Linked DNA regions of Homo sapiens: region 2 is linked to region 1. The links come from fine-mapping of genetic effects on gene expression. A gene starts in region 1. The other region holds a variant in brackets. All regions are shown on one strand. Distances are from middle to middle.

What was found. PIP is the estimated chance that this variant, and not a neighbour inherited with it, causes the effect. A credible set is the group of variants that fine-mapping cannot tell apart.
Region 2: its variant is the best candidate, but not a certain one, in a credible set for the expression of SLC24A3 in subcutaneous fat (GTEx, PIP 0.83).

What each region holds. Positions count from the first base shown.
Region 1 is chr20:19,210,498-19,215,713 of GRCh38, reverse strand. SLC24A3 (solute carrier family 24 member 3) reads right to left here and starts at 3,072. Exons shown (of 17, transcript NM_020689.4): 1 at 2,730-3,072. The coding sequence starts at 2,871. LOC101929547 (a long non-coding RNA gene) reads left to right here and starts at 3,246. Exons shown (of 3, transcript XR_007067549.1): 1 at 3,246-4,085. RefSeq lists a silencer at 2,672-2,721.
Region 2 is chr20:18,952,048-18,957,263 of GRCh38, reverse strand. No RefSeq gene overlaps it. Among named protein-coding and RNA genes, the nearest start is that of SCP2D1-AS1, 120 kb to the right of the region's middle. The variant G/A (reference allele first, on the strand shown) is at 2,128.

The DNA.
Region 1 (5,216 bases):
ATATAATTATCACACATCTCTATTTTGCTTTGGTAAAAGAACTGTCATTTTAAGAGGAAAGAAGAGAGAAAGGAAGGGAGCAGGAAGGAAGAAAGAATGAAGGAAGGAGAGAGGGAGGAAGGGCCAACAGAAGGAAGGAGGGAGGGAAAGGTCAATATGTGTTAGAAAACGAGCTTCTGAGAAGTTACATTTAACAATCACTGCATGGCTTTCAAGGTGACTAAATGAAAATATTACCTTTGATCATTATGAAGGTACCCCCTATGAGATTATATAAATATTACAAAGCTACACCCAAATGGTGGTTTGAATATGAGGACAGAGTAGGGAACAAAAAACCAGGTTACCTCAGGTTGGTTTTTTCCTCTACTCTTCGAATGCTGTGTGACTTTAAGCTAATCACTCAGCCTCTCTACACCACAAGGTCTTCGAAACAATGCTCCATTCCAAACTTCAGTATCTGTACCAAAGGACCACTAGGTAGTGTGTGCTCCAAGTTTCCAGGGTAAAAGTCACCATTCAAATGCTTACGTGTGCCAAACGACAATTCCCCTTGCAAAATTATCATTTGCAGATTCACACACATTAATTAATATGTTAAAAATTATCTAGAAAAACCTGTGTCTTGCTGCAAAATACTACTGTGCATCACATACCAAAATCATCAATACCTAACGGAAAAAAAAGTGATTGGAGACCATTTCAACTCATATGTCATTCGGGGGCAACACAGGGAGGCTGGCTGGCATCCTCCTTAACATTTGGCTTTTGCCTGTTAGATCTTCAGTTACTGGGGTGTGGAGGGGTCCTAAGACCAACAGAGATGAGAAGGGAGGAAGAGGAAGTGAGAGGAAAAAAGAATATGAAAGGTAGGAAGGAGAAAGGTAGGACAGAGGGAGGGATGCGGAAAAGGCCGTGCTATGGAACTAAATCTGAGTCAGTGGCACCTGAATAGAAATGTCACTACCAGGGAAACCATTCCAAAATGACATTCCAGTCCCCAGGTTTCAAGTTTGCAGAGTGTCTGGCCTCCTCTCCTCCCAAATCCCAGCTTTTCAGGGCCCAGGCAGCCCCCTGTCACTGATTGACTTAACTATATGAGTCACATCCTTCACCCAGAAAAAAATGTCTTTTATATTCTTGAAAGTGGTGGGAACTCTATGTCTCATAGAGCCCCAACATACCAGAAAAAAATGGCCAGCGTGTAATCCACTAGGAATAGCCCTTTCCAAAGGTGGCATGAACTATAAACTGGTTTTTCACTGGAGAAAAATAAAAAAGGAAAATAAAAATGGGATTCGGGAAAACCCCCTTAGTGAGACTGTCAGTAGACAGAAGTCTGGCAGATGTGAATCTGCCCTGGGAGAGATTCTGCTTCCCTCACACCGGCACGGCCCCCTTCCTGATGTCAGAACCCAAGGCTACGGGATCTGAGATCCAGGAGAGCAATGGAGAGAGCCGTGGAGTCTTGAACAGCTTCACTGAAGACCAAGACGGACTCTCTGCTATTACCATAAATGATGAAGTCTGTCAAGCGGTCTGCTAAGACTGAATGAAGACTGACGCCTGTTTCACTTCCCCACCAAGCAGGAGACCAGCCAAGCTGGGGGAGATCCCTTTTTAAATTCATGGCACCTTTGAAAATATTTTACGGTGACTATCAAAATGTCTTTATTCTGCACCTCATGACATCTTGCATTAGAGCTACGTCGACCTCAACACCACAGCACATACTTGTAACTGTTTTTTTGTTTGTTTGTTTTGTTTTGTTTTGTTTCTTTCTCACAACCCTTTACATGGCTGTTTTCCCACTAATCGTGCCACTTCCACGGCCGGGATATAAAACCATTTTACAACAGTTATTCTCCCATGTTTTTCCTTCATTTTATAGACAGCTGAATCCCAGGATCGAAGCTGTTTCAGCAGACAACTGTTGGGAGCACACAAGATCTATTTCAGCTCAAGAAAGGCCAAGGACAAAGACAAGACAAAAGTTGTGGGTTAAAGGGCAGACTTTGCGCAGAGCACCGGTAGAGGAGCGGACAGTGTGATGCGTGGTCCACTGCAAACCATTTCTTCCACAGCAGCAGCTCTGCAAAAGGGACCTCTGAGGAAGAATTCCCTGTCTTCCCAGTGAGTGGTCATTTTAGGAGAACAAGTCCCCTACTAGCCCATAGCTGGAGGGCCAACACTTTTTCTCTCCCTGAAGTTCCCGGCACCTGTTCTGAAAGGGGGTTGAAGAGCTCTCTACTCGGGCCATCCCGCCTGCTCTCTGGATGGAGAACATACGGACAACTGTGTGTTAAGCAGTCCCCTTGAATCCTTCAGCAAGCCAAGGAGTATACAGGTGGTCACCTGCACAGGTGCCGGGTCTACCACCACAACTTTATCCCTGGCCTTGGGGGCTGATGGAGAGTAAGACTCCCCACCACCGCCACCAGCAGTACCTCCAGCTCGCGAGTAAGCAGCGCACAGGCGGGCACAGGTAAATGTTCCCAGGGCGGCCAGACGCCTAAGCCTGCTGGCTGCTGGCGCTCAGGGTCCCCACCTCCATGCCTCTGCGTGGGGCAGGGGGAGTCCTCGTGCCTGGCATCCCACTCCCCCCGCCAACCCAGCCCGCTTATCCTGGGGCTCCGGCCGGGCCGCCCGAAGGAGCCCCGCGCCCAGCCCCGGGAGCCCCGAGCCGCCGGAGCCGCAGCGCCCACTCGGGGCAGGCAGCGTGCACTCACCCTTCTGCTCTCGCAGGCTCGACAGCGACCAGAGCAGCAGCGCCACCGAGGCCAGGAAGCAGAGCTGGCTCAGCAGAAGGTCCCTCCGGCGGCGGCGGCGGCGGCGGCGACGCGCGCGGTCCTCGTCGCCGGACGGCCGCATCCTCGGGCGGCCGGGCGGCGGCCTCGGCGGGCGGCGGCCGCTCCTGTCGCGGGCGGCCGCGGCGGGGACAGCGGCAGGAGGCAGCCCTGCGCGCAGCAGCCGCGCGTCCTCGCTGCGCTCCCACCCGGCCGCCGCCTCCGCCTCCTCTTCCTCCTCCTCGCCGCTGCCCGTCTCCTCGTCGTCGCCCTCCTCGTCGCTATCGCCCAGTCCCTCCTCCCCTCCCTCCTCCTCCTCCTCGCCGCTCGCCCGCGCCGCCGCCTCCCGGCGCTCGGGGTCCCGCTCCTCCTCGCGCGCCATGGCTCCCACGCTCCGCGCCCGCGCTCGGCCTGGGGCGGCGGCGCGGCGGGGGCGGCGGGGGCGGCCGGGAGGCGGGGGCGGAGGGGGCAGAGGAGGAGGAGCGGGGAAGGACCGACGGTAGGAGGGCCCGCCGCTGGCCAACTCCGCCGGTTGGCAAAGCCACCCCGGACTGGCTCTGGCCTCGCCGGCTGCAGGAGCGCCTCGCGGGGCCGCCCGCCTATTCCATGGTCGGCGCGATGGGGGCCGGGGCCGGGCCGGAGCGAACAGGGAGCACCGAGCGAGCTGGGAGCATGAGCTAGCGCAGCTCCCGGCAGCCTGCAGCGGCGAGGCTGGTCGGGCCAGGGTTGGCGGGGGGCAGTGCCTGGGACACAGCCCGGCGCTGGCCGGCATGGCGGGGAGGGGGCGCGCTGGGAGGAGACTGGGCTGGGGAGGGATCCCTGTGTGCAGTCCTTCAACCCTTCTGTGCCAGGGGAAGAGGGACGGCGCAGGGGGCCCCCTCTCGGGAAGCACACACGCTGCCTCCCAGAGGCCGATCTTCACCAAGAAGGATTCGCTGGAAACTTTCGGAAAACCGAGGGGCTCTTCAGCCTCCTCTCTACGTGCTACCTGGAGTCGGGGCGCCGCGAGTGCGCTTGGCTGCCCGCGCCCAGCCTCTGGCCTCGCCTCTTCTCGCGGGCCTCCCGGGTTTCCCTCTGCCCCCTTGCGGGGATCCCCCTGTGCGCCCGACTCGGGATCTGGAACAGGCCTCCCCAGAGGCTGTTAGTTCCATAAGGGTGTCCGGCTCCCCCCTCTGTCTTGGGCTCACACTTCGCTTTCTGTTCGTGCTGGACCAAGTCCAATACTGTGGCTGATCGAAGTGGGGACAGCTGGCACGGTCCCTGGAGAGGCGGCCTGAAGAGGCTTCTGGCCTTGTGCAGGTAACACCAGCCTGCCCTACCTCCAACGTTAGAATCTTAGTCCTCCCATTTCCCCCATTCTAGGTCTCCTGCCCCTCCTTGCTGAAGGTGTGGGCTGCCCTAGAGATGGCTGGACTCACGACCTGCCGCAGGTGCCCATTTGGAGGGGATCCCTGGCCATCCCAGACACAGCCCACTCTCCCTCATTGGGCTTCCCTGGACTCTTCCCAGATGCTAGCCTGGGGCTGCTGGCTGGGCTGAGGAGGAGATGCCATTGTTGGGGCGGAGGGTGGGGGGGCGCTGAAAACAAAAGACCTTGTCCAGAAAGGGATCACCTGAAACCAGGTGTCTGTCTAGGTGACTGTCTCCATGGAATCCATTCAGATCAGGGAATCTAGCTTCATACCCTAAGGAGGTGGGAAGGAAGCAGAGAACCTCTGTATAAGGCTCCCCTGTCTAGGTCTGTTCAAATGTGTCCCCACCTGTGACTGACCTACCCCCCCCGACCTCCTCCCAGACAATCCCTGACAGCGCCCGGGGACAGCAAGGTCACAGCAAAGGGCAAAGGAAGTGGTTATAGGTGGCCTCCTTTCCAGAGAAAGGCCATCTCACCCAGGGAGACCAGAGACTTTTCCTTTGTGGGTATATCATTTATGACTGCTGTTCTCAGCCTGGCATCTTCCAGACACTCAGAGTACCTCCCCCACAATGCCTGAGTGGTTTTCCCTTTGCTTTGGCTGCAGATACTAAGGAGGGTGTAAAAATACGAGTTCATCCGTGCTGGAGTGTGTGGGGAGAATTCTCTAGTTGTGTTATCTCCATCAAGCTTTTGCAGACACAGAAAAGAAAGTTTAGGAGCTGAGAAGAATTCAACTAACCAGGAAAGTCACTCAAATAGTGTTTTCTAGTGAAAACGAGGGAAAATAGAAGGTGAGAGAGGGAATCTGGAATTAATTGAGTTAGGAAATGAACACAAGCTCCAGGGGAAAATACCATAGGCTCAAGGAATTGTGTAATCTGGTGATGGAGGGGGAGTTAGGAAGGGAGCCAGGAGGAAGGAGAATAACCAGGAACTGGTAATTTCTTGGAAATTATCTCAGCACCAGGAGTGTATGTGTGTGTGTGTGGCGGGGTGGGGCGGGGGGGCCGGGG
Region 2 (5,216 bases), 260 kb after region 1:
CGCAGTCAATGGATGGTCTCCCAACAGTCTGCCATGTCACCCAAAATCCCCACTATTAGAATTAACCCAGTAAGGCATTGCTAAAGTGCAAGTATTTTGCCTGGGAGGGTAGAGATGGTAACCAACCGACACATTAGTCTAAACAAAACCACCAACTTTCCTCCCAGACTAAGGCCACACATCCTCCTTTCCTGCACACTCTACCTGCTTTCTATAGAAACCAGTTCCTTCAGGTAACTTGTTCCTCTTTTTTTAGGAACCCTGGGTTCACAAAATACATCATTCACAACATTTGTGGTTAAGAGAGCAGAACTCTGGAGACACACAGCCTGGGTTAGAATTCCCGCTCAGCTGTGTGGTATTGGGCTAGTTGCTTGATCTCTCTGTGCCTCCGTTTCCCCATGGAAATAGAAATAATAATAATCCCACCTTATAGGACTGTTTTGAGGATTCAGTGAGTCGATGGTATATGTAAAGTGCTTAGAACACTACCTGGCATATGAATAAATGCTAACTAGATCACTAATTCACTTTTGTAATTGGCCTGAACAATTTAATTTATATTAGTCTAATTTATATTATTTTAATAATCTAATGTAATAAACATCAATGAATATATTATGAACACAAAACCCAAAATACTAGGAATAATTTATACCTACACATACACTTCTCTTCCACACTGTCCCCCACCTCTCCAAAATTAACTTAACCAAAGGTTTAACATTTTCTTTTTTTCCTCTCTTTTCTTTCTCCTTCTTTTTTTCTTTTAAGGCAGGCCCTTGCTGTGTTGCCCAGGCTAGCCTCAAACTCCCGGGCTCCAGTAATTCTCCTGTCTCAGCCTCCCAAGTAGCTGGGACTATAGGCCATACCACCACACCTGGGTTAACATTTTCTTTTTTATTTTGCATATAGTCTTAACACATGTTTTTCTAAAAATATGTTGTTTCATTTTAGTTGCTTTTAATTGTATTAAAAGTGTTTCATAGGGTATATCATTTTCTAGGACTTTTTAAAACTCAGTGTTCCATCGAGTTGTGTGTAACTGTAATTTAAATGAACTGTTTAGTACTTTTATGTAAATTACATATGTTTGACCCCATGAAGTTGGCTCCATCACTCTAAACCAATACTCTAAAAATTCGAAAGTTTTAAAACGTGTCCAAATCAGGAAGACTCAGCTGGAAAATACAGTCAAGATCCTGGTGCTCCCACCTTCCCCTTACAGAGAAGAGCTTCTGATACAAACACCACGGTCTGAGTGGGGCAGCCTCCTGCACCCTCACTTCAGTTGTCCTTTATGTCTTACTCTTCCACTTAGATCAGAAATGATGTCCACTTCAGGGGTGGTCACCCTGGGGAGTCGCTGGACAAAAGCAGCCTAGACCCAGACCATGGCAGGCCTCATTCTCCCCATCCTCACATTGGCTCCCCAATTTGCTGCTCCTGGCTCAAAGTCCTGGCACTGAGGCTGAGGTACCAGGGGTCGATGCCAGTCAGGGGCAGAGGATGGACAGAGCATGGCAGGGGCTTGCTCAGGGAGGAGAGGGGGAGTGGTCACACTGGTCCTCAGGTCACACCAGTCGACAGCATGGAAGCCCCGGATGCTGGAGAAGAACTGGGTGTGGGAGACGAGGCTGAGATGCTGCAAAGACACCCAGCTGCAATCACAGCCTTGCCTCCCCGTGATCCTGCGGTGGAGTCAGGGGGGAAGGCAGGGGTTAGATTTATCCAGCAACATCCCTAAATGTATTTGGAAATGTCTTTCTTAACACCTCTAGAATCACAAACTGCCTAAAATTACTATATTTTCTCTCAAGCCAAGATTACGTGGAAAATCCACAGAGAAAAAATTTTCGTCCTCAATAAGGGTCTTCAATAGAGAAGAATCAATCAATAGAGAAGAAACAATTCCTGGGACTCCATGGGCTGGAAAAACAGCCCTGAATCTTGGATGCCTCCTTGGAAGGTACTTGATATGTCCTCCTCAAGATGATAATCTCTCAGGAAATTGACCATGGGGAGCACAGTGACTCACCTGGCTCTGGACTTCAAGACAAAACAGGCACCCACCCCTTCTTGTATTAAATTGGGTTTCGGAAGCACTGATCTGTTATTATTTTGAAT[G/A]TCCTCTGAGCCTAGCATCAGAAGGAGGCCCCAAAAAGACAAACATTAGCATCAGTGTTACTCAGAAAACAGAGGTTTTAAATGTCAAGGTGGGAAGTGAAAGTATAGAGAAGCAGGGAAGGGCAGGAGAGAAGCGTGGCACTAGGCTCAAGTTAAGGAAGAATAGCCGAATCTTCCAGTAGAGGAGCCTCCTCCCAGGACCACTCCCTCATCTCTTTGCTAACCATCTTCACTGGATTCCACCCAAATTCAAGAAGGGAGGAGACAAGAGACCTGCCAGCAATAGTGGGACCTTAGGTTGCTTGATGAAGCACTGACATCACTTTCCTCATCAACAAAATGAGCAATGGGACCACATCGTCTGCAGTATTCCTATCAGTTCTTTCTGTGATTTTGTGCTCAAAGCCAGATTCATTACCTACCGACGTGCACATGTGCGTGAGCACATAGACACACAAACACACATGCAATCAGATCTATTTCTAATCCTAGTATCAACAGGATTCACAATTTCTATGTTATTCTCACTATCTCTCTATTGACCTCAGTAACAGTGGCATCAAATGGATTCTAATAACAAAGACAATGATAATAATTGCTTTTACAGTAATCATATATACAGAATCTACACTAGCAGTACATGCAATCACATAGTATTTTATATATAATAATGAATATTACTAAATATACATAATATATACTGTATTATATATCATATATTATTTTAAATCATGTGTCACATATTCAGAGAGAAAGGTCGGGTTACCCTGAAAGGAAAGCCCATCAGACTAACAGCGGATCTCTCGGCATAAACCCTACAAGCCAGAAGAGAGTGGGGGCCAATATTCAACATTCTTAAAGAAAAGAATTTTCAACCCAGAATTTCATATCCAGCCAAACTAAGCTTCATAAGTGAAGGAGAAATAAAATACTTTATAGACAAGCAAATGCTGAGAGATTTTGTCACCACCAGGCCTGCCCTAAAAGAGCTCCTGAAGGAAGCGCTAAACATGGAAAGGAACAACCGGTACCAGCCACTGCAAAATCATGCCAAAATGTAAAGACCATCGAGACTAGGAAGAAACTGCATCAACTAATGAGCAAAATCACCAGCTAACATCATAATGACAGGATCAAATTCACACATAACAATATTAACTTTAAATATAAATGGACTAAATTCTGCAATTAAAAGACACAGACTGGCAAGTTGGATAAAGAGTCAAGACCCATCAGTGTGCTGTATTCAGGAAACCCATCTCACGTGCAGAGACACACATAGGCTCAAAATAAAAGGATGGAGGAAGATCTACCAAGCAAATGGAAAACAAAAAAAGGCAGGGGTTGCAATCCTAGTCTCTGATAAAACAGACTTTAAACCAACAAAGATCAAAAGAGACAAAGAAGGCCATTACATAATGGTAAAGGGATCAATTCAACAAGAGGAGCTAACTATACTAAATATTTATGCACCCAATACAGGAGCACCCAGATTCATAAAGCAAGTCCTGAGTGACCTACAAAGAGACTTAGACTCCCACACATTAATAATGGGAGACTTTAACACCCCACTGTCAACATTAGACAGATCAACGAGACAGAAAGTCAACAAGGATACCCAGGAATTGAACTCAGCTCTGCACCAAGCAGACCTAATAGACATCTACAGAACTCTCCACCCCAAATCAACAGAATATACATTTTTTTTCAGCACCACACCACACCTATTCCAAAATTGACCACATAGTTGGAAGTAAAGCTCTCCTCAGCAAATGTAAAAGAACAGAAATTATAACAAACTATCTCTCAGACCACAGTGCAATCAAACTAGAACTCAGGATTAAGAATCTCACTCAGAGCTGCTCAACTACATGGAAACTGAACAACCTGCTCCTGAATGACTACTGGGTACATAATGAAATGAAGGCAGAAATAAAGATGTTCTTTGAAACCAACGAGAACAAAGACACCACATACCAGAATCTCTGGGACGCATTCAAAGCAGTGTGTAGAGGGAAATTTATAGCACTAAATGCCTACAAGAGAAAGCAGGAAAGATCCAAAATTGACACCCTAACATCACAATTAAAAGAACTAGAAAAGCAAGAGCAAACACATTCAAAAGCTAGCAGAAGGCAAGAAATAACTAAAATCAGAGCAGAACTGAAGGAAATAGAGACACAAAAAACCCTTCAAAAAATCAATGAATCCAGGAGCTGGTTTTTTGAAAGGATCAACAAAATTGATAGACCGCTAGCAAGACTAATAAAGAAAAAAAGAGAGAAGAATCAAATAGACACAATAAAAAATGATAAAGGGGATATCACCACCGATCCCACAGAAATACAAACTACCATCAGAGAATACTACAAACACCTCTACGCAAATAAACTAGAAAATCTAGAAGAAATGGATACATTCCTCGACACATACACTCTCCCAAGACTAAACCAGGAAGAAGTTGAATCTCTGAATAGACCAATAACAGGCTCTGAAATTGTGGCAATAATCAATAGTTTACCAACCAAAAAGAGTCCAGGACCAGATGGATTCACAGCCGAAATCTACCAGAGGTACAAGGAGGAACTGGTACCATTCCTTCTGAAACTATTCCAATCAATAGAAAAAGAGGGAATCCTCCCTAACTCATTTTATGAGGCCAGCATCATTCTGATACCAAAGCCGGGCAGAGACACAACCAAAAAAGAGAATTTTAGACCAATATCCTTGATGAACATTGATGCAAAAATCCTCAATAAAATACTGGCAAACCGAATCCAGCAGCACATCAAAAAGCTTATCCACCATGATCAAGTGGGCTTCATCCCTGGGATGCAAGGCTGGTTCAATATATGCAAATCAATAAATGTAATCCAGCATATAAACAGAGCCAAAGACAAAAACCACATGATTATCTCAATAGATGCAGAAAAAGCCTTTGACAAAATTCAACAACCCTTCATGCTAAAAACTCTCAATAAATTAGGTATTGATGGGACGTATTTCAAAATAATAAGAGCTATCTATGACAAACCCACAGCCAATATCATACTGAATGGGCAAAAACTGGAAGCATTCCCTTTGAAAAC